7 separate regions of the Homo sapiens genome follow, and regions 1, 3, 4, 5, 6 and 7 are each linked to region 2. The links come from fine-mapping of genetic effects on plasma protein levels. Region 2 holds a variant in brackets. A gene starts in each other region. All regions are shown on their reverse strands.

Evidence for each region. PIP is the posterior inclusion probability: the model's chance that the variant is causal. Protein levels are from antibody-based Olink assays in UK Biobank. Linkage for the fine-mapping came from a reference panel and not from the study's own genotypes, which makes the PIPs less certain.
Region 1: it holds the start of C1orf116, and the variant in region 2 is fine-mapped to the plasma level of the C1orf116 protein (UK Biobank, PIP 0.97).
Region 3: SDC4 starts here. The variant in region 2 is fine-mapped to the plasma level of the SDC4 protein (UK Biobank, PIP above 0.99).
Region 4: it holds the start of SORT1, and the variant in region 2 is fine-mapped to the plasma level of the SORT1 protein (UK Biobank, PIP above 0.99).
Region 5: CCL28 starts here. The variant in region 2 is fine-mapped to the plasma level of the CCL28 protein (UK Biobank, PIP above 0.99).
Region 6: CXCL11 starts here. The variant in region 2 is fine-mapped to the plasma level of the CXCL11 protein (UK Biobank, PIP above 0.99).
Region 7: SPINT2 starts here. The variant in region 2 is fine-mapped to the plasma level of the SPINT2 protein (UK Biobank, PIP above 0.99).

Annotation. Positions count from the first base shown.
Region 1 is chr1:207,029,415-207,033,499 of GRCh38, reverse strand. C1orf116 (chromosome 1 open reading frame 116) reads left to right here and starts at 744. Exons shown (of 4, transcript NM_023938.6): 1 at 744-921.
Region 2 is chr7:101,854,307-101,858,398 of GRCh38, reverse strand. All of the region lies in intron 1 of CUX1 (cut like homeobox 1), which reads right to left. Among named protein-coding and RNA genes, the nearest start is that of CUX1, 39 kb to the right of the region's middle. RefSeq lists an enhancer at 1,348-1,477. The variant C/T (reference allele first, on the strand shown) is at 1,749.
Region 3 is chr20:45,345,502-45,349,499 of GRCh38, reverse strand. It overlaps SDC4 (syndecan 4), which reads left to right and starts at 1,076. Exons shown (of 5, transcript NM_002999.4): 1 at 1,076-1,175. The coding sequence starts at 1,116.
Region 4 is chr1:109,396,502-109,400,589 of GRCh38, reverse strand. SORT1 (sortilin 1) reads left to right here and starts at 2,672. Exons shown (of 20, transcript NM_002959.7): 1 at 2,672-3,003. The coding sequence starts at 2,698. PSMA5 (proteasome 20S subunit alpha 5) reads left to right here. Exons shown (of 9, transcript NM_002790.4): 9 at 1-1,548. RefSeq lists an enhancer at 1,538-2,519 and silencers at 2,546-2,675, 2,716-2,785, 2,796-2,895.
Region 5 is chr5:43,410,313-43,414,404 of GRCh38, reverse strand. It overlaps CCL28 (C-C motif chemokine ligand 28), which reads left to right and starts at 2,014. Exons shown (of 3, transcript NM_148672.3): 1 at 2,014-2,152. The coding sequence starts at 2,089.
Region 6 is chr4:76,034,156-76,038,155 of GRCh38, reverse strand. It overlaps CXCL11 (C-X-C motif chemokine ligand 11), which reads left to right and starts at 2,086. Exons shown (of 4, transcript NM_005409.5): 1 at 2,086-2,229; 2 at 2,814-2,940; 3 at 3,037-3,109; 4 at 3,340-4,000. The coding sequence starts at 2,169. The coding sequence ends at 3,363. It also overlaps a transcript of ART3 not described here and the pseudogene RPL36P8.
Region 7 is chr19:38,262,849-38,266,940 of GRCh38, reverse strand. SPINT2 (serine peptidase inhibitor, Kunitz type 2) reads right to left here and starts at 2,368. Exons shown (of 7, transcript NM_021102.4): 1 at 1,943-2,368. The coding sequence starts at 2,048. RefSeq lists a silencer at 2,344-2,663 and enhancers at 2,820-3,737, 3,878-4,092.

The DNA of each region.
Region 1 (4,085 bases), not on the chromosome of region 2:
TGTTTTGTTTTTATTTCATAATATGTATTGCCACCTTCCATGAACAGCCAAAAGAGAGCAGAGGACCAAATGACAGAGTGCATGCTCTCTCCTTTCAAGCTGTCCAGTCACTCTTTCATCAGGACACGGACCTCTTAGGGGATGAATGGTTTTATTTCCCCCAGAAATAAATTAGGCCAAGGAGATTGTTGGCAAGCACTGGGGCGAGACTGGCCCAACTACAGCATCCCTAGCCTGGGGACACCTTCTTCAGTGGACATGAATGGAATTGCTAGGCTTATGAGCTAGGATTAGGCTTGGGGAAGAAAGTGACTTTCAACATCTAGAAAAGCTAGCAGCAAAACTGAACACAAATGAGTTTAGCCTAGAGAATTCAGGGGAAAACTAAGCTCCAAGCGGAAGAAGGTAGTTCTAGATGAAAAACCTGTTTCACATAGACCTATGGAAAAGCACACTGCCCAGAGGACTGTCTGCGTTCCTTTATATCAACATTAAATATATATACTATCTCTGCCTACTCCCTCCCTGCCACCTGTCCTTCCAGTCTCAGCCCAAACCGGCTCCTCCTCCTTCCAGCCCTCCTTTTTTAAAGAGCTCTTTATTAGCTCTAAACAGGAAAGGGGAGGGTAGGAGATGATTGGCTAAGAGGGAACAGCACCACCCTGCTCATTCCCCTCCCATTCCCTCCCTGAGGAAACAGCTGGAATGAGAGGTAGGGAGGGGAGGCTAGGATTGGCTGAGTCAGTGGCAGGGTGGGGGCCAGGCAGCACAGATGAAGCATTTACCTATCTAGGTAAGTCAGGAGGAGCTCAAAAGGAGAAGAAAACAGTAGGAGGCAGGGGAAGCAGCCTCTGTCTCCATCTCTGCCCTTTGAAACAAAAGGGTATTTCTTTTCTCTCTTCAGCCCCCAACCCAGTGGAGGTGAGTTAATCACTAACCAACTATTGCTTATCCTATAGCAATAGGAAGGGGTTTCATGGGAAATCAGAGCTACAGGGGAGGGGAGGTGTCCCTCTATACCCCAGCTAGGGAGATTTCCTCTCTGTTCCTCAATTCTCTGAGTCCATTCTGGGATCAGATCAGGTTGGTAGCAACTTGAGATTGTAGTGTTTTTGTGGAGACTGGGGCTGGGAGGCACCTTCTTTTTCATTTATCCCTTTAGGTTGGATAGGCATATTGTGCAAACAACAAGAAAAAGAAAATAGATTTGTTTTGGAAATTTCCATCTCTGAACAATTGAAATTGAGTTGTGATTTTAGAAAAGAACAGTTGAAATAGAGGGAGTCAAAATGGGGGAGAGTATCTTGGTTTTCCATAGCGACTGTAACAGGAAATTCTCCCGTGGCTTTACCAACTCGGTGTCGATCTTTATTTAAATAATGGGTGCAATGTGTGTGTGTGTTTGATCATGCTCATGTGATAATGGAGCTCTCTGTGTACAGGTGTGTTAGGCATGAGCTGTACTAGGTTGTTTGTAAAGGGATATGAGGTTGGGGCACATGGAGAAAACTTCAGCTACCAGCTCATCTTTGGAAAACCCATGGATAATCTAGCTGCAAAGTCAAGTTTATTTGGATTCTACTCAATTAACTTTCTGACTCAGCCTGTTAATAGACACAGAGACTGGCAAACAGAAAGCTACCTGGCTGTGCCGAGCCTCACCCACATGAATATTTCGTGGCTGCATGTCAAGTCTAGTTAGAGTTCCAAGTGGGGCTCAAGCCAAGGTAGTGTGGCAGAGTCCACAGACAGAGAAGCAGACCAGGGTGGTGGCTTTGTTTGTTTTCCTGCAGGTGTCCCAGTTGGCAGTTTGTGTGGCAGATTTACCTGCAGAAGGAAGGCAGATGTAGGAGTCGAGTCAGAGTAGCAAGTTGCCTCTCCATTATCCATCTTGGGGGGTTTAACCCTTTGGTCCCTAACTTTGACTCTTTTCCTCCTGCTGCAGAGAAGAGGGAAGTGGGAAGCCCTCAGTGCCAGGCTCAAGGGCCTGGCACACGCAGCCCTGAGTGAATATATGGGTTTTCCAGTCCTGGCAACTGGAGATTTAGGCTTGAGCTCACCTCACACCACAGAGCCAACACCCCACACTCACAGACTGAGGGCTGCCCTAGATGGTGAATTTAGGAATAAAGACCACTGGCAGTGTCTAACAAAGCTCTGCTATGCAGAGGGTATTTCTACCTGCTCCTTCCCTCAAACACACTGGTGAAAGGGAAGATGATAATGTTGCCTAAACACACACAGAAACTTGCCCATGTGTTCATGGAGACAGATATGCAAACTGTGCAAGTTTTAGTCATTCTGCTATTTTTCTTAGGATATTTTCCAGCCCAAGGCACATTTCTGGGTAGTCAACAAGAAGCAAAGACACCTGGATTGAAAGACAGGAAACCTCTTTGACTAGTAGGCAGAGAGGCAAAGCTCTTGGAGGACATGTGGGGGGTTCGTGGGAGGAGGATGAGAGGGACCTGGGTCTGATTAGAAGGTACAGACAAGCCAACCTGGAATGGAGCTGGAGCCCTCTCCCCACCCCACCATCTCCAGATGCCAGAACTTGAACTGTTCTTTATTTCCTCTCCTCCAAGGCTTGGCAGTATTTAGTATTTTAGTCAGTGGTGTAGTTAATATTTAATGTGTCTTTGGATGGGTGGCCCTGACTATAGGTGCTGCATATTTCTTAACCCATTCCCTCCTCCCGTTAAGTTCCCAAAGAGGTCAAGGGTTAAGATACCAAACTCTCACCTTGAGTGTTTTGTTTGTTTCTCAGTCTTCTTATCAGGGTTTCGATGGCTGCCCTGAAAGAGCCCCAAGGTTCAAGGTTGTGAAGTCGGTGAAAGGAAATGCAGCTTTCACCATTAAGATTCTTTAGGTCAGAAAACTAGGTATGGAGATGAGGTGACAGCGCCTCGCTCAGCTTTGGTTTCAGGTTCAGATTCCTCTGTGCAGGGATTATGTAATCCCTAAAGACATGATCTTCCTTGGCAGTTGGTGTCATTTCTTTACTGTAGAAATATCTGCTGTTGGGGCAATACACTGGTCTGGAAGTATAAAGCTGAAGCAGATGATTTGCAGGGTTTAAGGTATGAAGTAGAAGGAGAAGGGGGTTTTAAGGCTTTTAGTATTTTAGTCAGGGGTGGCTAGTAACCATTCTCGGGGGCATGCCCCTCTTGCATCCAGATAGTCCCTGAAATGCCCTGTGGAGGGCTGCCCTGTATATGCATGTATAGGTCATTCCCTGTTTCCCTTAGGAAGGGCTAGTGGTAAGAGCCATAACTTTCTCACCCGTAAAATGAAGAAAACGTCACATCCTGCCTATGTTTCCAGTTTATGCTGAAGATCGAATTAGCATATCTGAGAGTACTTTGCAAGCTATGGCATGCTGTGTTCTTGTGAAGCAGTGCTTTTCCTACCACTTTTATCTCTTCCAGCTACTTGAAGACATCCTAGGTTCTGAAACAAAAGTGTGATAAGCTTCCCTGGTAGGAAAGAGAGACTAGAAAACCTCTGTAAAGTCTAAAGCATACTTAGAAGCACAAGGGTAGTAATTTTCTCTGAAAGTAAGAGGCAGCATCTGCTCACCCATTCATAGAGAATATGATGTTAATTACAGTGAGTCACTTTAAATATTTACTGCCCTGATTTTACAGAGAAGAAAATTGGAGCCCAAAACTAGACCCTTAGATCTACATTGACTTTTTGACAACAATGCCTTTGTCTTATACAGTTTTGTAACACCAGCGCCTATTATTAGGTGCTCATAAATGTTAGTTTAACTGAAAACATTGCCCAAATTTCACTGAGCCATATATTATCCAGGAAATTAAGTATTTAAGTAAAAGCTGACAGTTATAGGTTAGAAACCAAGAAGAAGCCTTCCAAAAGCTCAACCTAATAGACCCTAGAACAGATGGCAAGTTCATTCATTCGGCATTTTTTGAGTGTTTTCTGTGTGCCTAGACTCACAGAGATGGAGCTCCTTTGCTATAGTGGCCTCAACCCTACACAATGTTAGGAATGGGTTAGTCCTCCCTGAACTTGGGCATCATTCATGGAGTGGGTAGCTGAGATGACTGAACTTCATCCAC
Region 2 (4,092 bases):
TCCTCTGAGAAGGGGACATGTGAGCTGAGACCTAAGAAAGTAAAACCTAACCATCACAAACCAAAGTCGGCCTCTAAAATGGGATCCCCACCACCAACCCCAAAACCAGATACTACAATGCTCTTGGCCGGGTTTTTAGCCATGTGCTTGGTTAGCTGCTGCTTAACTTTATTCTTAAGGAATCTACATACTGCATTTTTTTAAAGCAGGTTCCCTGGTAAGAAACCCTACTCCTCAGAAACAACAAAAATAGTATGTTCTGTTTTCTCTTTTTTTGAGACAGAGTCTCGCTCTGTTGCCCAGGTTGGAGTGCAGTGGCACCATCTTGGCTCACTGTAACCTCCGCCTCCTGGGTTCAAGTGATTCTCCTGCCTCAGCCTCCCGAGGAGCTGGGAGTACAGGTGCGTGCCACCACATTCGGCTAATTTTTGTATTTTTAGTAGAGACGGGGTTTCACCATGTTGGCCAGGCTGGTCTTGAACTCCTGACCTCAAGTGATCCTCCCACTTCGGCCTCCCAAAGTGCTGGGATTACAGGCGTGAGCCACCACCCCCAGCCCTTACTGTTAAATGACCATGATGAAGCTGATTTCTACAAATACACCAGGAGGAAGAGCTAAGGGGGGAAAAAAATTCCCTGCAAAATAAAACGAAACAAAGCTCCTTGCAATTATGCAAAGCTATAGCACAGCTAAGTTATTCTGAGCTAACTCAACCTAGAGGGGTGACGGCCTGGCAAAGGGGGTCATCCGACCCAGCCAGACAAGCTCCGTCTTTCCCTTCCTGCTTCACTCATTTCTGAAAAGAACAGTTCCAGTTTAAAGTAACCCAGCAAATTCATCCTCAACGGGTGAAACCCCATCCTCGCTTCACCTGACTCAAAGCGTGCGCTGCTTTAATTCAAAACAGCTGACTTCGGAGGCCTACAGTCCTCATTTTTCATCCGTCCCCATCATACCAAAAGCAGACTATGTAAGTAAGAGCGGTGAAAGGCCTTTCTGTGCTGAAAACATATTTTATGTATTGAAAAGTACTTGGTGGCCACGCATCTTAACTCCTGAAGAAGAAAATAGTTATTTCTTTTTATTTCTGCAGATATTTCAAAAATATGATAGGTATTGAATGCTAGGCCTGTGACAGGCAAAATGCCCTGTAGGAGGTGCCCGGGTTTCAGAGTCAAGCACAGCCCCCAATCAGATAAGCAGAGGCCTGGGAGAGGGAGGACATCAGGACCCACGTGACGCTAACACCGGGCGGGGTAAGGGCAGGAACATGGCGCAGGCCCAAAAGTGGCCCGCGGCGGGTGGTACGGGGCAGGACAGAGTCCACCTGCTGGAGAGGATCTGAAGGGCCTCGTCCTAACAGAAACAGGAACCGGAGCTGGGCAGGACTTCAGAGGCTGAAGGATGGGAGAGGGAGGGTGCGCCCAGGAGGAGGCACAGCTTGAGCAGAGGCGTGGCTGCATGACCGCGGAGGGAGGGTTCACACCCGGGGCCTGTGGTACGGCTGGCAGGCGTGGGAGAGCCAAGGTGGGGACACAGAGAGGTCAAGGAGGCCGAGGCCGAAAAGGGACCACAGAATTTGGCTACAAGAAAGCAGTTTCAGTTTAACGATGACAAGGGAGCCCGAGTGAAGAGGAAAACCTGTCAACTCCTCGTGAAAGTCGGGAGGGTTTCTGCGTAGAAAAAAACAGCGTTCAGCAGCTCAGTTGGCTGCCGTGAAGTCATCAGAACTAGAGGAAGAGTTGGA[C/T]TTGCTCTAGTGAGGACAGCTTTTGAAGTCACTAACCACAAGGAGGAAGCCTTCCCCTCTGGGCCTGCAGGAAACAGATTGCGTGGCTTTGTCTGTCCTGGCTGGGGAACGCATGACACGCTGAAGGGTTTTCCAGCTCTAGGGAAGAAAATTCATCTTTCTGTAAAGTCCACTTCGTCTTCCATTATCTACCAGACTTCTTGATGGGACCATTTTTAGAGCCTTCAGTGAAAGAATGGAAAACACTAACTTGGATAAACAATTAAGAGTAGGGAGGGAAATAGGTGAAGACGCAACTCTGATGAAATAAACAAACCGCAACCGTGGAATAACATTCTGGTTATTATGGGTCGTGATTAACGGCTCCCTGCGTTGATGGCTGAAAACTTGTGCTTTACTGCACACTTCCAGCAGAATTTAGCTGCTTTTTTCTTTCTTGTTTCCTTTTTTTTTTTTTTTTTTTTTTTTGAGACAGGGTCTCACTCTGTCACCCAGACTGGAGTGCAATGGCTTGATCATAGCTCACTGCAGCCTTGACCTCCTGCTGGACTCAAGCGATCCTTCAGCCTCAGCCCCCAAGGAGCTGAGACTACAGATGCACGCCACCACACCTGGCCAATTTTTCTTATTTTTTGTACAGACGGGTTCTTGCTATGTTGCCCAGGCTAGTCACAAACTCCTGGGCTCAAGTGATCCTCCCGCCTCAGCCTCCCAACGTGCTGGGATTACAGGCGCTAAACCAGCACTTAAGCTGCATTTTTTTTTTTTTTTTTGAGCTGGAAACTCCTTCTACCGCCCAGGCTGGAGTGCAATGGCACAATCTTGGCTCACTGCAACCTCCGCCTCTCGGGTTCAAGCGATTCCCCTGCCTCAGCCTCCCGAGTAGCTGGGATTACAGGCGTCTGCCACTGCGCCCAGCTAATTTTTGTATTTTTAGTAGAGACGGGGTTTCACCATGTTGGCCAGGCTGGTCTGGAATTCCTGACCTCGTGATCCACCCGCCTTGACCTCCCAAAGTGCTGGGATTACAGGCATGAGCCACCGCGCCCGGCCTTAAGCTGCTTTTTAACACATGGGGAGAACACAGAGAAAGTACCAAAATGAATGTTGTAACTCAATTCTAAAATACGTGAAAATATACTGAAGACTCTTCCATTGCATCATCTTGTAAATTCAGGTGAAATCCTGCCTGTCCCTACCTAGGCCTCATTTTCCTTATCAACCTATGAGAAACGACCAGGCATTTCTTGGGTCCCCAGCACCCTGGAGAAAGAGACCACTCGGAGGACACGGCCCCTCACCTCATGGTCCCCCTGGCAGGCAAGGCCACCGGGCCAATTAATGGAAGTCAGTGACCAGCAACTGGAAGGGCTACAGGGTTTGGGAGGAGATAGAGCCTCTGAGGTTGGAAAGGCGGCCAGGGTTTCACTGGGAGGCAGGGCCTGGGCCAGGCTCCAAGGGACGGGGTCCAGCCCCCAGCAAAGCATCAGCACACACTTCAGCAGGAGGTAAGATGCCACGGCACTGGGGAAATTTTTAAGCAAGAGGGAAGAGGATGCATTAACAGAGAAGAGGGAGGTCACCATTGTGGGGCATTGCAATCCAAATTGAGTCCAGGCCGGGCGAGGTGGCTCACACCTGTCATCCCAGCACTTCGGGAGGCTGAGGTGGGAGGATCACTTGAGGTCAGGAGTTTGAGACCAGCCTGGTGAAACCCCACCTCTACTAAAAATACAAAATTAGCTGGGTGTGGTGGCACATGCCTGTAGTCCCAGCTACTTGGGAGGCTGAGGCACAAGAATCGCTTGAACCCAGGAGGCGGAGGTTGCAGTGAGCCAAGATGATGCCACTGCACTCCAGCCTGGGTGATAGAGTGAGACTTCATCTCAAAAAGAAAAAAAAAGAAAGAAAACTGAGTCCATTTTTAGTCCTTTGAAGTGTGCAGGTGTGTGTGACTAAAAACAGGCAGAACCATCACTGTTGAGAATGGGGTGCCACAGAAATGGGAGACAGGGTGTCATTTCTTACTCCAGCAATCGGAGGAGGCAACTGTTAGGAACAGCCCCCACTGGCTGAGCAGTGGCCAAGAGGCACCTCACTTTATGGAGGGGGTCCCTTCCAAACACTAAGAACTTAGGAAGTTCTCGCCACCCAGAGATAAGGGAATGGAGATGCCCAACCCCTAAATGATGGAGGCAGGATTTGAGCCCAGGCCTCTGGTGCCAAAGCCCCCACTGCTTCCTCATCCCATCACCACCAAACAGGCTCCTATGCTTAGGAGACTGGCTTTCTGAGCATTTCATAAAGTTGCTCTGCAGACAGACTCCAAACTTGTGTTAATCAT
Region 3 (3,998 bases), not on the chromosome of region 2:
GCCTCCCAAAGTGCTGGGATTACAGGCATGACTCACTGCATCCGGCCTGCATTTTTATTATAAAATGTCATTTATTTATTTATTTATTTATTTATTTATTTATTTATTTATTTTTGAGACAGGGTCTCACTCGGTCACCCAGGCTGGAGTGCAGTGAGCGATCATGGCTCACTGCAACTTTCACCTCTCTGGCTCAAGCAGTCCTCCCACCTCAGCCTCCAGAGTAGCTGGGCCACAGGGGTGCACCACAATGCCTGGTTAATTTCTTTAAAAACTTTTTGTAGAGATGGGGGTCTCATTATGGTTGCCCAGGCTGGTCTCCAATTCCTGGGCTCAAGGGATCCTCCTATTCCTCGGCCTCCCAAAGTGCTGGGATTACAGGCGTGAGCCATAGAGCCCAGCCGATTTTTGCATGTTTAAATGGTTGGGAATAAAGTCAAAAGAATAATAATATTTCGTGACACATGAAAATTATATTAAATTCAAATGTCGGTGTCTATAAATAATGTTTTATTAGGACCTAGCTGCCCTCATTCCTTTAGTATTTATGGCTGCTTTTGAGCTACGACGCTCGAGTTTGAATAGTTGCCACAGGGATCGTATGGCCCGCAAAACCTAAAATATTTAGCCCTTTACAGAATAGTTTGCTGTCCCCTGTCTTAACACGGTTCACATCCCATTTGGGAAGTTCTGTGTCTTCAGAGGGGAGCACACCCGGTATGAAGGCTGGTCTAAACTCAACACCCTAGGGAAGTCCTTCCCGTCCCTGGGCCTTAGTTTCCCCAACTATAAAATGGGGTTAGCCGCAGTGATCTCTGGGGACCTGCCTGGCAGTGGGTCAAATAAATAAAGGGAGTTGGAGCTCCCGGAGGGTAGGACTAGGGGTTGAGTAGGAGCCGGCGGGCTCGGGCAGGGCGGGTCCCTTGGGGTTTCCAACTCCGCGGGCGGGCGCAGTGCCCCGCAGGCCTCGCTTCCACTGGGGAATTCCGGGCGGGGTGCGGGCGGCGGGGCGGGGGCGGGCCGGGGCGGGGCCGGTAGGCCGCCTATAAGATGGGTGGCGCGCCCGCCCGGGGCCACTCGCCGCAGCCTGCGCGCCTTCTCCAGTCCGCGGTGCCATGGCCCCCGCCCGTCTGTTCGCGCTGCTGCTGTTCTTCGTAGGCGGAGTCGCCGAGTCGGTGGGTGCTTGGAGGTTCCCGGGCTGGGGGCGAAGCGGGGGCGCAGGCCGGTGCCTCCTTTGTTCGTCGGAGCGTGGGATGGGGGGGGGCAGATCGGGGGTACGCTACCCCCAACCGGACACCGAGGCCCGGGAAACTTTGTTGGAAACTTTGCTCCGGGGTCACGGGCCAGCCTCCGGGATGGCTTCACGCGCCGTGCGCCCCTCGCCTGTTGCTCTTCCCGCCTCCCCGGGCCTCAGCCCCGCCGCGGGCTACGGGCTCGTTAGTGACTAAGCCGGTGTCAACTCTTCAACTCCCACACCCTCGTCCCTTCCCTGGTGACCCTGGGGCAGGCTTGGAGCGCTGAATCCCCTCCTCGCTCTCGGGGCGCCCAGAGCAGACAGCTTTAGGATCCGAGATGGCCCTGGGGGTCGGGGGGCTGCGTGTACTCGGAAGGGGGAGGGTTTTAGGGTTGTGCGAGGCCCTCTTTCACACACCAAGGAGAACTGAGCCCTAACCTCAGTTCTGGCCCCAGCTCTGTCATTGACTTGTGACTTAGGGCAAAGTCCTGCCCTTCTGAATCTCTTCCCAATACTGCACCAAGGGTCTGAGGGAATGGGGCAAGAGGGGACACTGCGTTAGGGTTTCTAGAAAGTTGGGGACTCTGCTCTTTTCGAGGACAGAGGAGAGGAATGGTTTAGACTCAACACTTAGCCAGGAGCTGAGCCTCTGCTTTCTGCAAGAAGTGTGTTCATTTTTTCTCAATTGCAGATAAGAAAATTGAAGCATCCACCTTGAGTGAGGTGAAGGGGGTAGGGGGGAGAGAAGGCCTCAATCAGCCCAGGGAAACCTTTCCTTCTCACTGTCCACTGGCCTCCGTCATAGCTGTCCCTGGGCCAGCAGAAGCTCTATCCATGCCCGCAGCCGGCTTAGGAGGAGGGGGGCAATCTCATCTGGGAAGTTGGGGGGCATGGGAATTACTGGTGAAGGCAATCTGTCCCCCACAGCCTGAGCTTTGTGCCCCCTTTGTGCCCTTTAGCCCCAGTTTTCAGAGCGAGTGAGTCCTTGCAGTTTAACCATTAATGTTAATTTCTTTGAAAGCCTTGGGGCTCCTGTTCCTCTGAATTTACTTAGCGGAAGGTTGATTCTGCCTGCAGGCTCTTCTTGAGGAATGAATGAGACCCTAGGCAATACTTCCAGCACAATTCCAGGCATGCCATGATGATTGCAAACGTGGAGCGCCTTTGTCGGGGGGCCAGACATTGCTCTAATAACTTTCTAATGGGTATATCCAGGAGCTTAATTCCAACAACAATCTTACTGTGTACTGTTCTTAAACTGGTCCTGAGGCTAGAGAGGTTAAGTAACTTGCCCAGGGTCACACAGTTAATACACAATAAATGGGTGAGTCAGATTGAAATTTAGGCAGCCAGGCTTTCAAGTTTCTGCTTTAGCTTAACTTCTACTCTTTGTGCTACTCCAGGTGTCCCATCGTTGGTAACTAAAGACGGGTTTAGAATAGGTTGAGATTTTAGGCTGGAAGGCAAAGGAATTCTGAGGTGGAAGGAAACAAGGCCAGAGTGAGGTGATGACTTAACCTAAACCAAAGGCTACCTTGCCTAAAATGTTAGTGGCTGAGGACCCAAGCCTTCTGCCTCTAGCACAGTGCTCTAAACTAGGCCCTGAAGGATGTGTCGGGTCAAGCAACTGGGGAAGCATCCGAAGGGATACCACCTAGGCAGTACAGGGAAAAAGAGGAAAGGACCCAGGAGGTTGCTGAGGTCACCGTGTGCCCAGTCACATGCCAGTTTCCTCCCAGGGGCTGCTGAGCCTTCAGGTGCTTCAGGGTGCTGAGCAGTCAGCTGTGTCCTGGGGGCATTCTGAAGGATGTAGTTTGGGGGAAGGGGACTGTGTCAGTCCTGCCTGGGTGACCCATCAGCTGCAGGAGACATCAGCCCTGGGCAGCTGCTTCCTGAGATAGGTGTCAAGTCTCATCCTGACCTCAGCTCTCCCCTTCCTGGCTAATGTCACAGACCTCCTGCCTGTAACTGGGGCACAGGGCTTCCCCTTTGGCCTGTCCCCTCCCTCTTTTCTAGATTGTGGTTGGAAAAATCAGACATAGTCACGGTTGGCTCGGACTGAAGAGATGATCCAGCGTGTCCTTTTCTTTTTGCAGGTAGAGAAAAGTGAGGCCCAGGGAGAAGGACTTTGCTAATAGCAGTTAGGAGTGATAGAGTACTTTTTATATGACAGATCTGGTGCATTTTGTCCTCACAAAAAGACCTGTCACATGGGGATTCTATTATGCCCACTTCCCAAATGTGAGAGGTAAAATGGTACTACTTTGGGTTAGTAGAGGGCATCCAGGACCCCAGGATCTCTGACTAGTAGCCCTCCCATTGTGGGTGGTGTTCCCCCGACTGTTCCATCATTCCCCTTACCACCCCCATATTTTGGAAGGGAACCCAGGCTCAGTACCCAGCTGTCCTCTCCTCTGTTTGGCTGGGCTTGCTATACTAAACCAGTTCTTCCTGTCCAGCTGGGAGCATTCCCTGATCTGCCTTCCTGCCACTCCCTCTCAGGCCAATTAAAGGCAGCCTTGTTTTGGGAGTCCCCTCCACCCAAAGGTGTTCCTACCCAGGGGCACAGCCTACTGACTTGGCCCCGGGCCCAGGCGGTTGTGGGGAAGTGTCCCCCACCTATCACCTATCAAGTGTACTTTAGCTTAAGGACATTTCTGGTCTTCTACAGCGTCCTCTTCTTGATTACATGGGAGTAGGGGTGGGGGCGGAAGCCTAGGGGCTTCTAGGACCCTTGAGTGAACAGTGAGAGCTCTTGGGACTT
Region 4 (4,088 bases), not on the chromosome of region 2:
TCCAGAGACTTCTAGTGATTTTAACACTTATTAAGTATAGCATGTTGATGGGGAGATTTGTTTCTCTAAAGATCACTTTGTTTTATTAAATCCTAATAGAAAATACCCTTGAAAATCCTATCTCATTTATTCCTGTAACAAATTTATTGAGCACCTACCTACTATATGCCAAGAAATGTATTAGCCATCAGGCAGAGAGCTGTTCAAATGGTAGATATGATCTGTGCTCCTGTGAAACTTCTAGTGGGGAGAGCCAAACAATAAACAATATTCCTTTTTAACTCTAGGTTAATGCAGAAATGGATAAAGCCCATGTTGCTTTTGGGAGAGGTGAGTTGTGTCTCTGAATCACATGCATTTCATAGGGGGAAAAATGCCCAAATACTAAGGAGTAGCTCTTAGCCTATGTCCGTTCGCCTCAGCTTAAGTTGTTTTCCCTCCCACTGGCTGGGCAGCATATTTGTGTTTTACCTGGTAAAACAGTAAATTTCGTACCTTCTATAATTGGCATTCTTCAAAGAGGTAGAACTTTGATTTTTTTGTAGAATATTAAAACAAGCTTTCTTAGGTTAAAGAAGTGATCTTACTACGAACAGCAATGGTTTCATGATGTGTAATTGCTTTATGTTATCTTTCTGCTATAGAATGTTTCCTGGAGAAAGGTACGGTTTTTAGTAATAAGATAAATTTACTTTAGTCCTGCAAATAAGGTGAAATCTTATGTCCAGTATCTCACAAAGGAGAACTGACAGTGCCACTTTTATATTTAATGTCAATCTCATTAGACAAAAATGAAATATAGTTCCTAGGGTTTCCAATTTAAAAAGTGAAATAATAAATATATTCACTCAAACATTTTCTCAGTGCCATATGCAAGTTACCATGTCCCAGAAGCTGATACAGTTTGAAGAAGGAAATATATAAGTACTGTAAGCCTGTGATAACTAAAAGCAACATACTAAAAAGTGAAGGTACAGATAATTGGAACAAATTTAATAGCGTTTAAAAGTGTATTTGGTAATTTCTCCAGGAGGTGGCACTGTTGAGTTGTTTTTTCTTTTCAGACAGTAAGACAATAGACCATTCATCTTTGTGTCACCCAAACAAAGAAATATTCCTTTATAACCCCCTTTCCTCCCCCCACCTAATCACATGCTACTGGAACTGACTGTCTTGTGATCTACTCCCATAGTTGGCATAGATTTAAAAATAATCTTTTTTAAATTAATCTGATAGTAGTTATGGAAAGGAACAAATTGTTCACCAATTTTCATCAGCTTTATCTTTTCAGTCCAGTAACTGAGAACTTAAAAAGACTATTCTAGTGATTTTACTATCCTGCTCAGATGGCATTCAAAAACATTTTTCACTTCTCACGTCTTGGAAAAATTTGTAAATTCGTTAAGTCTTTTTGTTTGAAAGTTAATGTGACTGGAAATATTTTAATGTAAATATCGGGTTGGGTGCATTGTATCATTTTGCTCTACAATGACTATATCCTCATTTGGGTTTATGGCCAGTTTATAATTAAAAGTAATCTTTACTTGCTTTGAGTGTAATGACTTGCATATTTTGTATCTTTCTATTTGCTACCTTTTCTACTGAACAATTTCTAGCTTTCTGAAGGGATGGAGTCAGTAAGCTTAAGGATTCAGAACTGGTTTTACCTGTGCTACGTGTTGTAGAAGTTGTGTGTGCAGCTTCTGCGGTAAAGGGAACAGCGTAGGGGTTTTATTTTATTCATTAGAGGTGGATCGGGGTGCTAATTTAGAGGACATCACATACTGGAACCAAACTTGTCCGAAGCTCTCACTGCAGAGTTAAGGCACTTTGGTAAAATAAATGTGCATCTAGGAAATGATCATGTGTACAGTAGGCATTGGATCATTCTCTTGCCCCTCTTTTACCTGCCCCTAATGCCTAAGCTACATTCGAAGTCCTGGAAAACCTGTAAGTAATTCCGCCTTTGGCCTACCTCCCCTCAGAAGAGGAAGGTGAGAGAGGCCAAACGTATGGAAAGACTATTCTTCAGGCTTGCAGGAGTCACGGATGTCCTGATGTCTGTCTCCGTAGGATGTGGCCCACATCAGTTCGCATTCACCTTCTTGCAGCAAGGCAGCTGCTTAGCAGACAATGGGCGCTCCAGTGAGCGGGGTTTATAAAAACCCGAAGCCCCGGTTCATGATGGAGCCCCCTTTTCCAGCTGAGCAAGCTCAGGGATTTCCTGGGTAGGTTTTTCCAGGCTCTGCCTCACCGAAGGAATTTTAGGAGTGTCTCTGGGGAACAGGAGGGACGTAACCCAGCCCCAACTTGAGGGCGCTAGAGGTGCGGCAAGGGGTCGCGACGCCAGGAGCCCGGGGCTCGGCGGGAAGGTATGAGAAGCTCCTACGTGAACTCCACAAGCCGGGCCCGGGAGACGCCGGGCGAGGCGGGGTTGACCTCAGCAGTCTCTGCCCCGTTCCAGCCAATCAGTCCCGCATCTTAGCATCCGAATCCAGGACCCCCGAAGCCGGAGGCGACGCGAGCCAATGAGGAGTGGGCCGGGGAAGAGGGACAGGCGGCCAGCCTATGGGGCGGAGAGGCCCGGCCGCGCGTATCCAAGGAGCGCCGCGCTCGGCTCGGGGGTGTGGCGCGCGCCGGCGGGGGTGGGCGGGCGCGCCGGGCGGCAGGTGTCGGCGTCGGCGGCATTCGGCGGCGATGGAGCGGCCCTGGGGAGCTGCGGACGGCCTCTCGCGCTGGCCCCATGGCCTCGGCCTCCTCCTCCTCCTGCAGCTGCTGCCGCCGTCGACCCTCAGCCAGGACCGGCTGGACGCGCCGCCGCCGCCCGCTGCGCCGCTGCCGCGCTGGTCTGGCCCCATCGGGGTGAGCTGGGGGCTGCGGGCGGCCGCAGCCGGGGGCGCGTTTCCCCGCGGCGGCCGTTGGCGTCGCAGCGCGCCGGGCGAGGACGAGGAGTGCGGCCGGGTCCGGGACTTCGTCGCCAAGCTGGCCAACAACACGCACCAGGTGAGCGGGCGCCGGGCCCGGGAGCCGCTCGGGTGCGAGGTGCCGCCCGCGTGCCCCTCCCGGCCCGTGCGCCCCGCGACTCCCGGAGGAGACCCCAGCCCTGCCGCGCCCGCGTCCCCCGGGCCGCAGCCCCGAAACTGCGGCGGGCGGGCGGGCGGAGTCGGGCCCGGGCGGCCGGCGGGGCTGTGTTTTGTCATAGGGGAGGCAATCTTAGACTTCCACCGCATTCTTTTTTTTTTTTTTAAGTTGTCAAAATCTCTTGAACATCGTTTTTCGTCTGTATAAATAATCAGGACCCAGTAACGCTGTTAGGCCCCAGGAAGGTGAAGGAGTAATTAACTCTTGAGCGCTTGCAGAAGTTGGGCTGCGCAGAAGCAAAGGTGTGTCCTCTCTGGGTCAGTACTTTCCGGGTGGGAGAGGCGGGAGTTCAGGAGGCCCGAAGCAGCGATCTGGTCACCGTGTTTTAATAGTTAAGGGGACTAGCTTGGAAATGAGATGGCAATATTTATGTGATCTCTTTTACTGCTTCAGATTTGACCTTCTGTCATGGTACGGAAGTCTGACTAGCATGTCTATATCCCGTGGTGACAAGATTTTCAATAGTTAAGAAACGCATTGCACATATTCTGCTTTGAGCCAGCTCTTGGTCAAAAGACTTTCAAAATTATGGGATTTCTGTCCCTGGGGACAAGCAGCTCAACCTTTGCACACTACTGGACTGACAAAACTAATTATTAAGAAAGTCCTGGTTCCTTGCTTCAGCACAACTTGGGCATCTTTCTCCTATTTCTCTAAAATTAACAATTTAATCCTTGCTAGCCACATTTGCATAATGTATTTTCAATTCTATATATTTTCTCCCTTGCCTGTTTTCCTCTTTCAAAGAAAATGAATTGCACTTGGGGGCAGAGATGGGTGGCCAAGGCTCTGTGCCAGCACTTGTCCTTCTGTAACCGTTTTTCAGCGTCAGCCAAGCCTCAGTCTCCCTTTGGACTGCCTGGTTATCTGGACCATACTTGTTACCTGTAATAGAATTCTCTGATCTGAGGACACAAGACACAAATATTCAGGAATAATTGTGCTTA
Region 5 (4,092 bases), not on the chromosome of region 2:
CACCCTCTAAGAACCTCCACATGTTCAGCTATCCAGAAGCTCTCCAAACTCTGCCCTTTTGGGGTTTTACAAAGGCTTCATTACATAGGCATGATTAACAACCATGTAGAAATGTGATTAGACAAAAAGCACATAATCTAAACCCAGCAAGTCCTGCCTGTTCAGGCTTTTCTTGGCCTGTGTAGCATTCCTTCCTCTAGAGTATGGGACAGAACCCTTTCTGGAATGAGGATCTTATGACCCACAATCAGATTAGAGTCCTGCCTTGGGCAGGTGAAAGAAAAACAGAAGGTCAGAGAGAGATTCCGTTTCCTGAGGCCTGTTCCTGAAGCCTAAAGTGCCCCAACATTATAATATAAAAAAAAGACTGGGCTGGGCACAGTGGCTCATGTCTGTAATCCCAGCACTTTGGGAGGCCAAGGCGGGTGGATCACAAGGTCAGGAGTTCAAGACCAGCATCTTGCCAAGATGGTGAAACTCACTCCAGCCTGGGCAACAAAGCGAGACTCTGTCTCAAAAAAAAAACAAACAAACAAACAACAAAAAAAAACTGTAACAAGGGTTATGGGAGTTATAAGCCAGGAACCATGGATAAAAGCCAATATATATATCATAACACCACAACCCGAGACTGAGCAATTTATAAATAACAGAAATGTATTCTCTTACAATTATGGAGGCTGGGAAGTCCAAGATCAAGGCTCCAGTGATTTCAGTTTCTATTTCCAAGATGATGCCACTTTGCTGCATCTTTTGGAGAGAAGGAGCATTGTGTACTCACCTGGCAGAAGAGCAGAAGGTACCAACCCATTCCCACAAGCCCTTTTTATAGTAGCATTCATCCATTCATGAGGGTGGAGCCATCATAACCTAAACATTGTCCATTAGGCCCTATCTCCCAGCACTATTAGGGATTAATTTTCAACATGAGCTTTGGAGAAGAAAAAAATATTCAAACCACAGCAGTAATTTGAAAACATAAAAAGAAATGGGTGAAATTAATTTTAATAATATATTTTATTTAACCCAAAAAGTCCAAAATACTATCATGTAATCAATAAACAGTATAAACATTATTAACAAGATATTTTATATTTTTTTCTGTACCCAGTCTTTGAAATCCAGTGTGAATTTTATACCCATAGTACATCTGAGTTTGGACTACTCATATTTCAAGTGCTCAAGAGCCACATGTGGGCTAGCGGCTACCACATAGGACAACACAGTTCTAGAGGAAGCATGGCATGACTTTGGAGGTCATCTAGTCTGACTTGTTATTTACAGCAAAGTTAAGTACGTTGCCTGAGGTTATACAACTTATTAGTAGATGAGGAACAATTAGAATCCAATTATCTTCATGCTACCCCATGCTTTTATTCACAAAGCTGATTGGCAGCAAAGCTGCACTAGCGCTCATGCCTCTTCACACCTGCTCTTGGGCTCTTTTCTACAAGGCATTGCCCCCCTTCCTGTCTTTCTCCTAAATAAGCTATTGTAAAAAGCTTCACTGGAAACAATTTGGCTGTGAACCAAGACTAAAGTGGGGTTTAATACTTCCATATCTTTCCACAAAGATACATTTTTTATGACTTGTCACCCTTGTCCCCAGAAACTCATGGTTTCCATAAGCTACTTAAAAACTGATTATGCAATGGGTCTCAACATAAGTGTCCATCAGAATCACCTATAGAGCTTTTACAAAATTCAAATGACTGGTCTCCTACCTGGGAGTTCTGGTTTACAAATCAGGGAAAGGGGAGAGTCATTTAGATTGATTTTTTTTAATGTTCCCCAAATGATTCTGATGCACACCCCACCTCACAGTGACCCTGCCAGCTGCCAGATCTCCATTGACATCCCCTGACCCCCAGGCAGGATGAACACAAGTTAGGAGCTTAATAAGTCGAGGAGGAGCCTGGTCTTAAGGAAAGAAACATGAGAAATAGATACCCTGAACACCTCCCAGGGCGGGGCCACCTGGCTTACTTTTCCTCTGCACTTTCTCTGTGCCCAAGGACACCTTTAGCCTCATTTCCTGATCGAACAGCCTCACTTGTGTTGCTGTCAGTGCCAGTAGGGCAGGCAGGAATGCAGCAGAGAGGACTCGCCATCGTGGCCTTGGCTGTCTGTGCGGCCCTACATGCCTCAGAAGGTGAGTGGGGGCACTGGACACTTAGGCCTTCACTGGAAAGGGGGGTATCTCCCAAATCTGTGCTGGAAGGATTGAGGTGGGGCAAGAATATCTATCTCTTCAAGCAGGAATTTCCAATTGATTTCTGATTACCTACAAGAGAATGACATAGCTTTAAATTCTAGATCTCCCAGAAGTTTCAGGAAGGAACCTCATTCTAACAGGCATACTACAAATTTTTGCCACCTGGAGGATGAGGTCCTTCCATGTAGGTACAACTTCGAGCTATGTTTCCTTTTCTGAAGACAGTATCTTAGAAAATCCCCAGCTAGAGGCTGGAGTAAAGCCCCTACTATTCATCTGTCTTCCTCCACACCCCAACCTGCTAAACGGTCTGAACACAACTGTGCACATTCCTGGAGGGAAATACAGACTTGGCCAGCTGCGTTCAAATTAGGTAAGTTGTAAATTTCCTGAGCAAAGTCAGCTCTATGGATACAGAAAACTGAAACTTCAGTCTGACCTTTAAAAAGGGAGGGCAGAGCTGAGCACAGTGGTGCATGCCTGTATTCCCACCTACTTGGGAGGCTACGGCTGGAGGATAGCTTCAGGCCAGGAATTCAAGATTGCAGTGAGCTATGATCACACTGTGAATTGCCACTGCACTCTGAATTGCCACTGCACTCCAGCTTGGGCAACATAGTAAAACCCCATCTGTTAAAAACAAAAAGAGGGGAGGGGAGGGGAAAGAGAAGGAAAGGAAGAAAGGAAAGGAAAGAAAGAAAAAGAAGAAAAGCAGGATGAGGGAGATTGAACCATACAAATTATGTCAAAGAGAATTTAAATCGTGAGTTGCTAGCATGTATTTGGAGATTGTAACTGCATTTGAACTAGAGGGAATCTCTTCTAAAGTAGCACTCACTACTATATTCAGGAAACCCTAAGTGTCAGTACTTAATACTTGACCAATGACTCTTTTCCATTGTCATCTTTTCTTTAAGCTTTATCCTGAACAGATTCTCTAAGTCTAGAGCAGAGGTGGAATATAAGTCTTTGGTCTGCTTTTTAAAAATCTGAGCCAACATTTTAAAACTGAAAGCTTTCTCATGTACATACTCATACATACACACATACAAATTGGATTTTAAAGCTTCTCTTGAGAAATCAGATGTGGCAACAATGATTCCACCATACCATGGCAAGAACTGGCTAAAGCAGATGAGCCTCTGAAGTTTGCTGTATTAACTGCCTGGTCCCTGCAGGCATTTGCTTAGGGACTCCCAATATAGTCCGTCAATGTACTGGGCTTATACAAATAAGCAACAGAAAAAACCTGGACAATCTCTTCTCAATTTCTACTAATCTATCTATCTTATCAATATAAAGACAAAAATTTGTCACTTTATGTTTCTGTAACATTTCTCAGAAAAATTCACCATTGAGATTTGGGGACTCATTTTCACTATTTCTGAAAGGCCTACCTGCTAAGGCTTCACTCCTAGTTCTGGTAATTCCACCAACTCAAATTTTTTACATAAAACTTTGAAATGTGTACCTCCATCCAGCTTCCTGACCTACTCCCACCTGTCCCCACAGCGGCAGCTCTCCTACAGGAAAGGAGGGAGGGAACAGCAGGTCGAGGAGGCAGAGGGTAATGAGGAAGGCTCTGCCATACCCAGGACCCACCTTCACATGGGACTGAGTCCTGGTAGAGACGGTGGGGTGGAACGGCAAAATGCAGAGGTGTGTGAAAAGGTACGGCTGCTGGTGATAATAAGGAAGGGAGCCGAGAGACCCAGCAATAGCCTTTTGGGTTAGTCTCGATGCTTTACCTAAGGCAGTTTAGGCCACAGGAAAATCACATTGCCTGAGAAGCTCCAAACTTCTGTCATTTAAAAATAAGTGATACTGGGTAAAAATACACAAGTAGGCCTGAGAACAGTCGTGGAATAGAGGGGCAA
Region 6 (4,000 bases), not on the chromosome of region 2:
AAAATGTCTATGTGATGGGATGAAGTGATGGAGCAAGATGATGTGAGATTTCATCATGCTACTCAGAAAAGTGCACAATTTAAAACTTATGAATTATTTCTAGAATTTCTCATTTAATGGGGGACTACTGTAAAGACTTTCAAAGGTTTTAAAGACTAGTCATGGTTGTTAAAGAATTTAAATGCAGGATTATATCTAAATAAATATATAATTTCAAGATAAAATGCAAATGATAATTCTCAAAAAAAGAAGTTGAATAAGATAAAATAATAATCTAAAAGTAATAAACTGGCTATAAATTCCCCGATTATACCAACTTTTATTGGTAAAACTAGGAAATAGGAGAAAATTCTTGAAAGAAAGTTACAGTGATTTTCTCATGTTACAAAGACAGGAGCTAAAAAAATATTATTGATGGTTGATGTAAATAATTAGAAAAATTCAGGTAAAAATCTTTTTAAAGAATTTTAAGAATTAATATCAAAATGTAAAACAATGTATTCCTTTCAAATTACTTAAGGAAGGCCAAGCACCGTGGCTCATCCCAGTAATCCTAGCACTTTGGGAGACCAAGGCAGGAGGATTGCTTGAGGCCTGGAGTTCATGGCTGCAGTGAGCTATGATTGTGCCACTCGACTCCAGAATGGTGACAGAGTGAGACCCATCTCATTAAAAAAAACAAAAATGGCTTCAAAAAGTTAAATAAAATATATTTAAAGTTAGAAAGAAATCAAAGAAAACATAAAGAATCAGCAAGGAAGCATTTTAAAAATTACAGATTACCAGTTATACAGTAAATATATTTTATTAAGCTTACCCATTAGAAAGCTCCTTTGATATGATTTTCTTAAACATCTACAAGTGACACACTTAAAACAAAGATTTAGGAAGCTTAAGAGGAAAAGATAAAGACAAAAAAATAGGAATTACATCAAAGTAGAATCTCAGAGGTAAAACTATCACATGAGCAAAGAGGATCACTTTTTTTTATGATCCCTAATACAACTCATACAACTTCATGTACTAAGTAACAGTGCTAAAATATATATAAAGTAGCTTTCCACCATGGCCACCATTGGAGGGCAGCAGCCATGACACTGCACTACCCTATAGCTGTGGGCCTCAACAAGGGCCACAAGGTGACCAAGAATGTGAGCAAGCCCAGGCACAGCCACTGTGGGCGCCTGACCAAACTCACTAAATTTGTGTGGGACATGATCCCAGAGGTGTGTGGCTTCACCCCTAACGAGTGGCGTGGCATGGAGTTACTGAAGGTCTCCAAGGTCAAACAGGCCCTCAAATTCATCAAGAAAAGGGTAGGGACAAACATCTGCACCAAGAGAAGGCAGGAGGAGCTGAGCAACGTCCTGGCTGCCATGAGGAAAGCAGCTGCCAAGAAGGACTGAGCCCCCTGCCATCTGCCTATAATGAAAGCTTTGCAGAATAAAATAAATATAAAATAAAGTAATAAAATTAAATTAAATTTAAAAATAAAATAAAGCAAAACAAAATAAAATATATAAAGTAAAAATTGTTGAAAATGCAAAACAATATGGACATAAATACAGAAACACAGGGAAACTTCTTTAGGCACTCATTTACAGGTAAAAATATGAAATTGAATAAAGGTCATCTGGTGTCAAATAATATAGGCCTTATCTATTATAAGAGTTTGGACTGAAAAGCAAAAGTGAGATAATAAAAAAAAGCTTTTCAGAATATTATTTTGTATAGATATGTGAAGGATGAAGGGTGGGTGAAAGGACCAAAAACAGAAACACAGTCTTCCTGAATGAATGACAATCAGAATTCCGCTGCCCAAAGTAGTCCGACAATTAAATGGATTTCTAGGAAAAGCTACCTTAAGAAGGCTGGTTACCATCTGGGTTTTCACAGTGCTTTCACATTCTTATCACTTTCAACACTACTGCAAATAGGAAGGGACAGTAACATTTAGAAGAGAACAAAACAGAAACTCTTGGAAGCAGGAAAGGTGCATGACTCAAAGAGGGAAATTCCTGTGCCATAAAAGGATTGCTGGTGTATAAAATGCTCTATATATGCCAATTATCAATTTCCTTTCATGTTCAGCATTTCTACTCCTTCCAAGAAGAGCAGCAAAGCTGAAGTAGCAGCAGCAGCACCAGCAGCAACAGCAAAAAACAAACATGAGTGTGAAGGGCATGGCTATAGCCTTGGCTGTGATATTGTGTGCTACAGTTGTTCAAGGTATGCAGTAATTTTTATTTCTCAACCTATAAGTTCCTTTTCTAATGTTTCAAATGTCTTTTCTTCCACTTTTATCCTAAAAGACATGATAAAGTTTTATTTAATCTCACAGATTAGAAGTTACTACAGCTTTAGCACAGAAATGGTGGACATGTTTAAGATACTAGAGATGATTATTGAAACTAGAAATTATGAACTTCATGGAATTTTTGATTTGGCTAGAATATCTGGCAAAAGCCTTTAGCAACAGTTTTAAATGTCTGTTAAGAAGATTTTATATAGCGATCATGTTAACAAGCTTCCTGGGAAAATATTTGAGGATAAAATCAAGGGGGCAAAACAAGCTTCACCTCCAATAAACTTCCTTCATGCTTCCCATTTGTTAGCGATTTGCTTACTAATTTAATGAGAAAATAATCAACATCTTACTTAACTTTTCCCAGTAACAGTTGTGTTAAGTGCTATTTGACAAATTACTATCTTTACCCTTAATGAAAATTCTGCTCACGTTCACCACCAGCTATAAACCACAGCCATCTGTTGCAATCAGATGCATTACTAACTAATGCTATGATCTATTCTAGGCTTCCCCATGTTCAAAAGAGGACGCTGTCTTTGCATAGGCCCTGGGGTAAAAGCAGTGAAAGTGGCAGATATTGAGAAAGCCTCCATAATGTACCCAAGTAACAACTGTGACAAAATAGAAGTGATGTAAGTAATGAACTTGCTGAAGATGACAATGGTGCAGGCTTTTTTGTTTATGTATTTGCATCTAAACTTTAAGACTCTTGTATGTTCTTTTAACAGTATTACCCTGAAAGAAAATAAAGGACAACGATGCCTAAATCCCAAATCGAAGCAAGCAAGGCTTATAATCAAAGTAAGTTACCAAATTACTCCCATGTTATAATCTGTTTTATCCAAGACAGATCTTTTGAAAAAGAAAATAATGTGGACAACTACAGAAAGATTCTGCTATGATCCTGTGTGAAATATTCTGTTAAGGGGTCCTTGGTTGTAACAGCTTCCCCTTCTTACTACATGTTTTTAGATGTCCTGGGGGAAACAAGAACAGCCCAAGTAAATAAAACTCTTGTTTTCTTATTCCAGAAAGTTGAAAGAAAGAATTTTTAAAAATATCAAAACATATGAAGTCCTGGAAAAGAGCATCTGAAAAACCTAGAACAAGTTTAACTGTGACTACTGAAATGACAAGAATTCTACAGTAGGAAACTGAGACTTTTCTATGGTTTTGTGACTTTCAACTTTTGTACAGTTATGTGAAGGATGAAAGGTGGGTGAAAGGACCAAAAACAGAAATACAGTCTTCCTGAATGAATGACAATCAGAATTCCACTGCCCAAAGGAGTCCAACAATTAAATGGATTTCTAGGAAAAGCTACCTTAAGAAAGGCTGGTTACCATCGGAGTTTACAAAGTGCTTTCACGTTCTTACTTGTTGCATTATACATTCATGCATTTCTAGGCTAGAGAACCTTCTAGATTTGATGCTTACAACTATTCTGTTGTGACTATGAGAACATTTCTGTCTCTAGAAGTCATCTGTCTGTATTGATCTTTATGCTATATTACTATCTGTGGTTACGGTGGAGACATTGACATTATTACTGGAGTCAAGCCCTTATAAGTCAAAAGCATCTATGTGTCGTAAAACATTCCTCAAACATTTTTTCATGCAAATACACACTTCTTTCCCCAAACATCATGTAGCACATCAATATGTAGGGAGACATTCTTATGCATCATTTGG
Region 7 (4,092 bases), not on the chromosome of region 2:
GAGGTAGCAAGAGGCCAGGTAACTGGGAGGTACATCCTAACGTAATTACTTAAACTGAAAAAGTCCAGCAGAGCTGCCAAATTCTGGTTCGAATTGCAAGAATGATCAACGTCTGCATTCCTGACTCCCAGTCACCTACAGCTGAGCCTCTCCCCACCAATTCACTTTTTTCTCCTGCCTAGGGCACAGAGAAATTAACCAGTCCCCAGAAGTTACCACAGGTGATGACTTGGTACACACCTAGCCTGCTCTTTTTTTTTTTTTTGAGACTGAGTCTTGCTGTGTCGCCCAGGCTGCTGTGCAGTGGCTTGATCTCAGCTCACTACAGCCTCCGCCTCTGGGCTTCAAGCGATTCTCCTGCCTCAGCCTCCCGAGTAGCCGGGACTACAGGTGTGCACCACCATGCCCAGCTAATTTTTGTATTTTTGGTAGAGACGGGGTTTCATCATGTTGCCTAGGGTGGTGTTGAACTCCTGGCCTCCAGTGATCTGCCCGCCTTGGCCTCCCAAAGTTCTAGGATTACAGGCATGAGCCACATCACCCGGCCTTCTTTTTTTTTTTTTGAGATGGGAGTTTCACTCTTGTTGCCCAAGCTGGAATGCAGTGGCGCGATCTTGGCTCACTGCAACATCCGCCTCCCGGGTTCAAGCACCAGCACCTGTCTATAAAGCCCTAGGCCATCTGGCTGCAGCCAACCTCTCCCACCTCCCATCCTCCTCCAGTCCTCCCCTCCTTCACGCCTGCTCCAGCCAGGCTGGCTCTGTCTTTTCCCTGAACCCAACCAAGCTTGTTCCAGCTTCAAGGCCTTTGTACTCTATTGCCTGCAACTGGACACTGGTCCCCCAGGTCTCCGTGTGGCTACTGCCTCATTCTTCATGTTAGAGCTCAGATGTCACCCTCCTCACGGAGACGTCCCCCGACCACCTGAGCTAAAGCCGCCCCCAACATCTTACGTCACCCTGTTGGTGTACTTCACCTGGTTCATTTAATTCTCAGTAACTTAATCTCATGGCAAGTGCTTTTTAAACCTTCACTAGCTCTGCCTCTCCCACTGGAATATTAGCTCTGTGAATGCAGGAACCCAGCTAGTCTGAGTTAACTGTTATAACCAGCGCCAGTGCCTGACACGTAGCAGGGCCTCAGTAAGTTTTGCTGAATCAATGAATTCTTGCTTTCAAGAGAGCTCTTTTCAAAACACGCTGGTGCTTGTCTGAAGCAGTTAAGGTTATAACAACACTTGTTCAAAGAGACCTTTCAGACCACACTTCCTTAAGAGTGTAGAAGTTTAAATCACCTTATTCACCACCGACTTCTAAGGGCCAATCCAAAGACCCCAACACCAGCTGCTCAACGCCAATACTCTCTCGAGCCTTAGCAGAGCTTCCTCTTCCCCAAAGCTTGTTTCCTTTCTTGCTCCCTCCTTCTCGGGCACCTACTTTACTGCAACTCAACTACAAAAACTTCAGGGGAGGCTCTTGTCCAATCTCCAAAGAGGCAGGGGTGAGATGGGCTTCTTCCGAGTCTAAAACGGCCACCAGGTCACCCAACCCAACCCCCACCATCTCACAGGCCTGGCCTCTCCCTGAGCTTTGGCCATGGAACTTTCCACCGCCAGGAGAAGGCTGGTCTTCAATTCGGCTCCTCACCCCGTTCTTGCCACAGGAAGGGGCAGTGCCACGCCTTCTTGGTCAATACCCCTTGACTCTTCCTCCACCCGAAGGAAACTCTCCTAACCCTCGCTCCTCCGCCCGTCTTCGCTGTCGAAGGCTCCCAAACCTCATTTCAAGGCTCAATCCTCCAGGGCTGGTTCCACCACACCCGCTGAACGCCATCAAGTAGCCCCCAGTTTCCTCCCCCGCCAGTTCTCCCTGCTCAGACCCCCGTTGACCCCCGAGCCTCTGCCCCCTGCGCCCCGCCTCCAGCCTACCCGCCCGGCCCTCACCGTGGATGCTGCGTTCTCGGTCGGCCGCCAGGACCCCAGAGAGGAGCAGCGATCCCAGCAGGGCGAGAAACGCCCGGCTCCGCCTCAGCCCGCACAGCTGCGCCATGGCCAGCTCAGCCGAGACGCGCAGGCGACGCCACCAGCCGTTGGGGTCTCGCGATCAGGTGCGGGAAGCCCCTCAACGCGCACGCGCAATGGAGCGCCTCGCGTTCAGGTGCCGACGCTCCGGGAGGGTCCGCCAGGTGCCAAAGCCCCCGGAAGTCGCCTTTCCGGACCTTCAGTGTGGGGACGCCCGGCCTTCTCGGCGCGCGATGCCTGGGTCTGCTCCTCACTCGCGCCCTCGCCGCCTGCGACACTCAACGGCCCTCAGCGCGTTCAGAGCCGCGCTACACCTCCCAACGCGCGGAGGTCGCCAGAGCCAATGGCGAACGCCTATTGGAAGCGGCTCCCGAAGGTGGCCGGGCAGGCAGGGGGCGGGGCGCACCTGGCTAGGCAGGGCGAGCTGGGCGCAGGCGCAAAGGGCAGGCACCTGCGCGGCCGCTCCCCGGCCCTGGGCGCACCTGGGCCCGCCCCTGGTGCCGGGGAAGAGGCGGGGCTTGCGCGGGCCTCGCCCCCAACAGAACCTGGCGGGGCGGGGCGGGGCGTCTGCCCGCTGAGCACCTGCCACCCTTCCCTTGGGCTTGGTGACGACGTCGGAGGAGGGCCTTCGCTCTAGGACTGGCCTCAGGGTGGGAGGAGGGGGCGGCAGACACGCGTTTCTTGGAAGCCTGTGGTTTTCTGCCCGCCTCGCCGCAGCTTTCCTGTGAATTCCTTCCTGAATTTCAAAGTTCACTGGGCTCATGCTCCAGGGCTTAATGCTGGGGACCCAGCGGTGGCCATGCCAGACTGGTCCCTGAGTCACCAAACAGGAACGGCCCAGAGTAGTGATAGCGGAAGCTTAGCACAAAGTGATGAAAGCTGTGATGGGGAAGGCCAAGCTTAGGGATCAGAGGCTGGGTCGCTAGAAAACCAGGGCATGATGGGAGCCCAGACAGCTTTCCCATCCAGCCTGAGAGAGGGCCAAGGAGGGCTTCCTGGAGGAGGTGATAGGCCCATGCAAAAACAGCCCCGAGCCCTGGCTCCAAGGTTCTCAGGACAGATATGGAGACAAATACTTAGCACAGGCAGCATCAGAATTGAGAGGAAGGAAGCCCCTGGGGAAACCCAGAGAAGACACCTGACCAAGCCTGGGAGTCAAAGAGGGCTTCCTGGAAGAGGAGTTACGTGAACAGACTCTAGAAAGGGGAATGGAGTGGGGCAGGCACACGAGTAGAGGATAGCCAACAAGGTAATCAACATAAATGCATTATTATTGAAAACACTTTTAGATTATTTCTTTTTTTTTTTTTTTTTGAGATGGAAGTTTTGCTCTTGTTGCCCAGGCTGGAGTGCAATGGAGTGATCTTGGCTCACTGCAGCCTTGACCTCCTGGGCTCAAGGGATCCTCCCACCTCAGCCTCCCAAGTAGCTGGGACTACAGATGTGAGCCACCACATCCAGCTAATTTTTAAATTTTTTGTGGAGACAGGGGACTTGCTATGTTGCCCAGGCTGGTCTCAAACTCCTGGCTTCAAGGGATCCTCCTGTCTCATCCTTCCAAAAGTGTTGTATTACAGGCGTGAACCACCACACCTGGCCTGAAAACACTTTGACAGTGCTATACAGAAAAGGAATCAGGGGCTGGGATGGAAAATAACAAGAGATCTTTTGAATGGGGTGGCGGAGGAAGGGCTTTGTGAGGGGTGGCTTTGATAATGAACTCTGAAGGATGATAAAGGCCAAGGGACAAACATTCCAAGAATCAGGAATGGCACATGCGGAGGCCTTCAGGCAGGAAAGAGAATAGTGTGTTCAGGAGCCAGGGCCACTCCCACTCTTCAGCCTCCCTCCTAGCATAATAATACATGAAAAGCCGTAACTGAGTTATCAAAATGGTATTTACCTTAAACAATGGAAGTCTAACCTTGCAATGAGATCATGGGACTCAAGGTGGAATCTGAATGTGAGGCCAAAGGTCTCCCCCAGCACTTGAATCTCCCACTGCCACTCAGGCCTACTAAACCTAGGCTTGAGCATGAAAACAGAGAAGTATGTGCTGAGCCGTCAAGGCT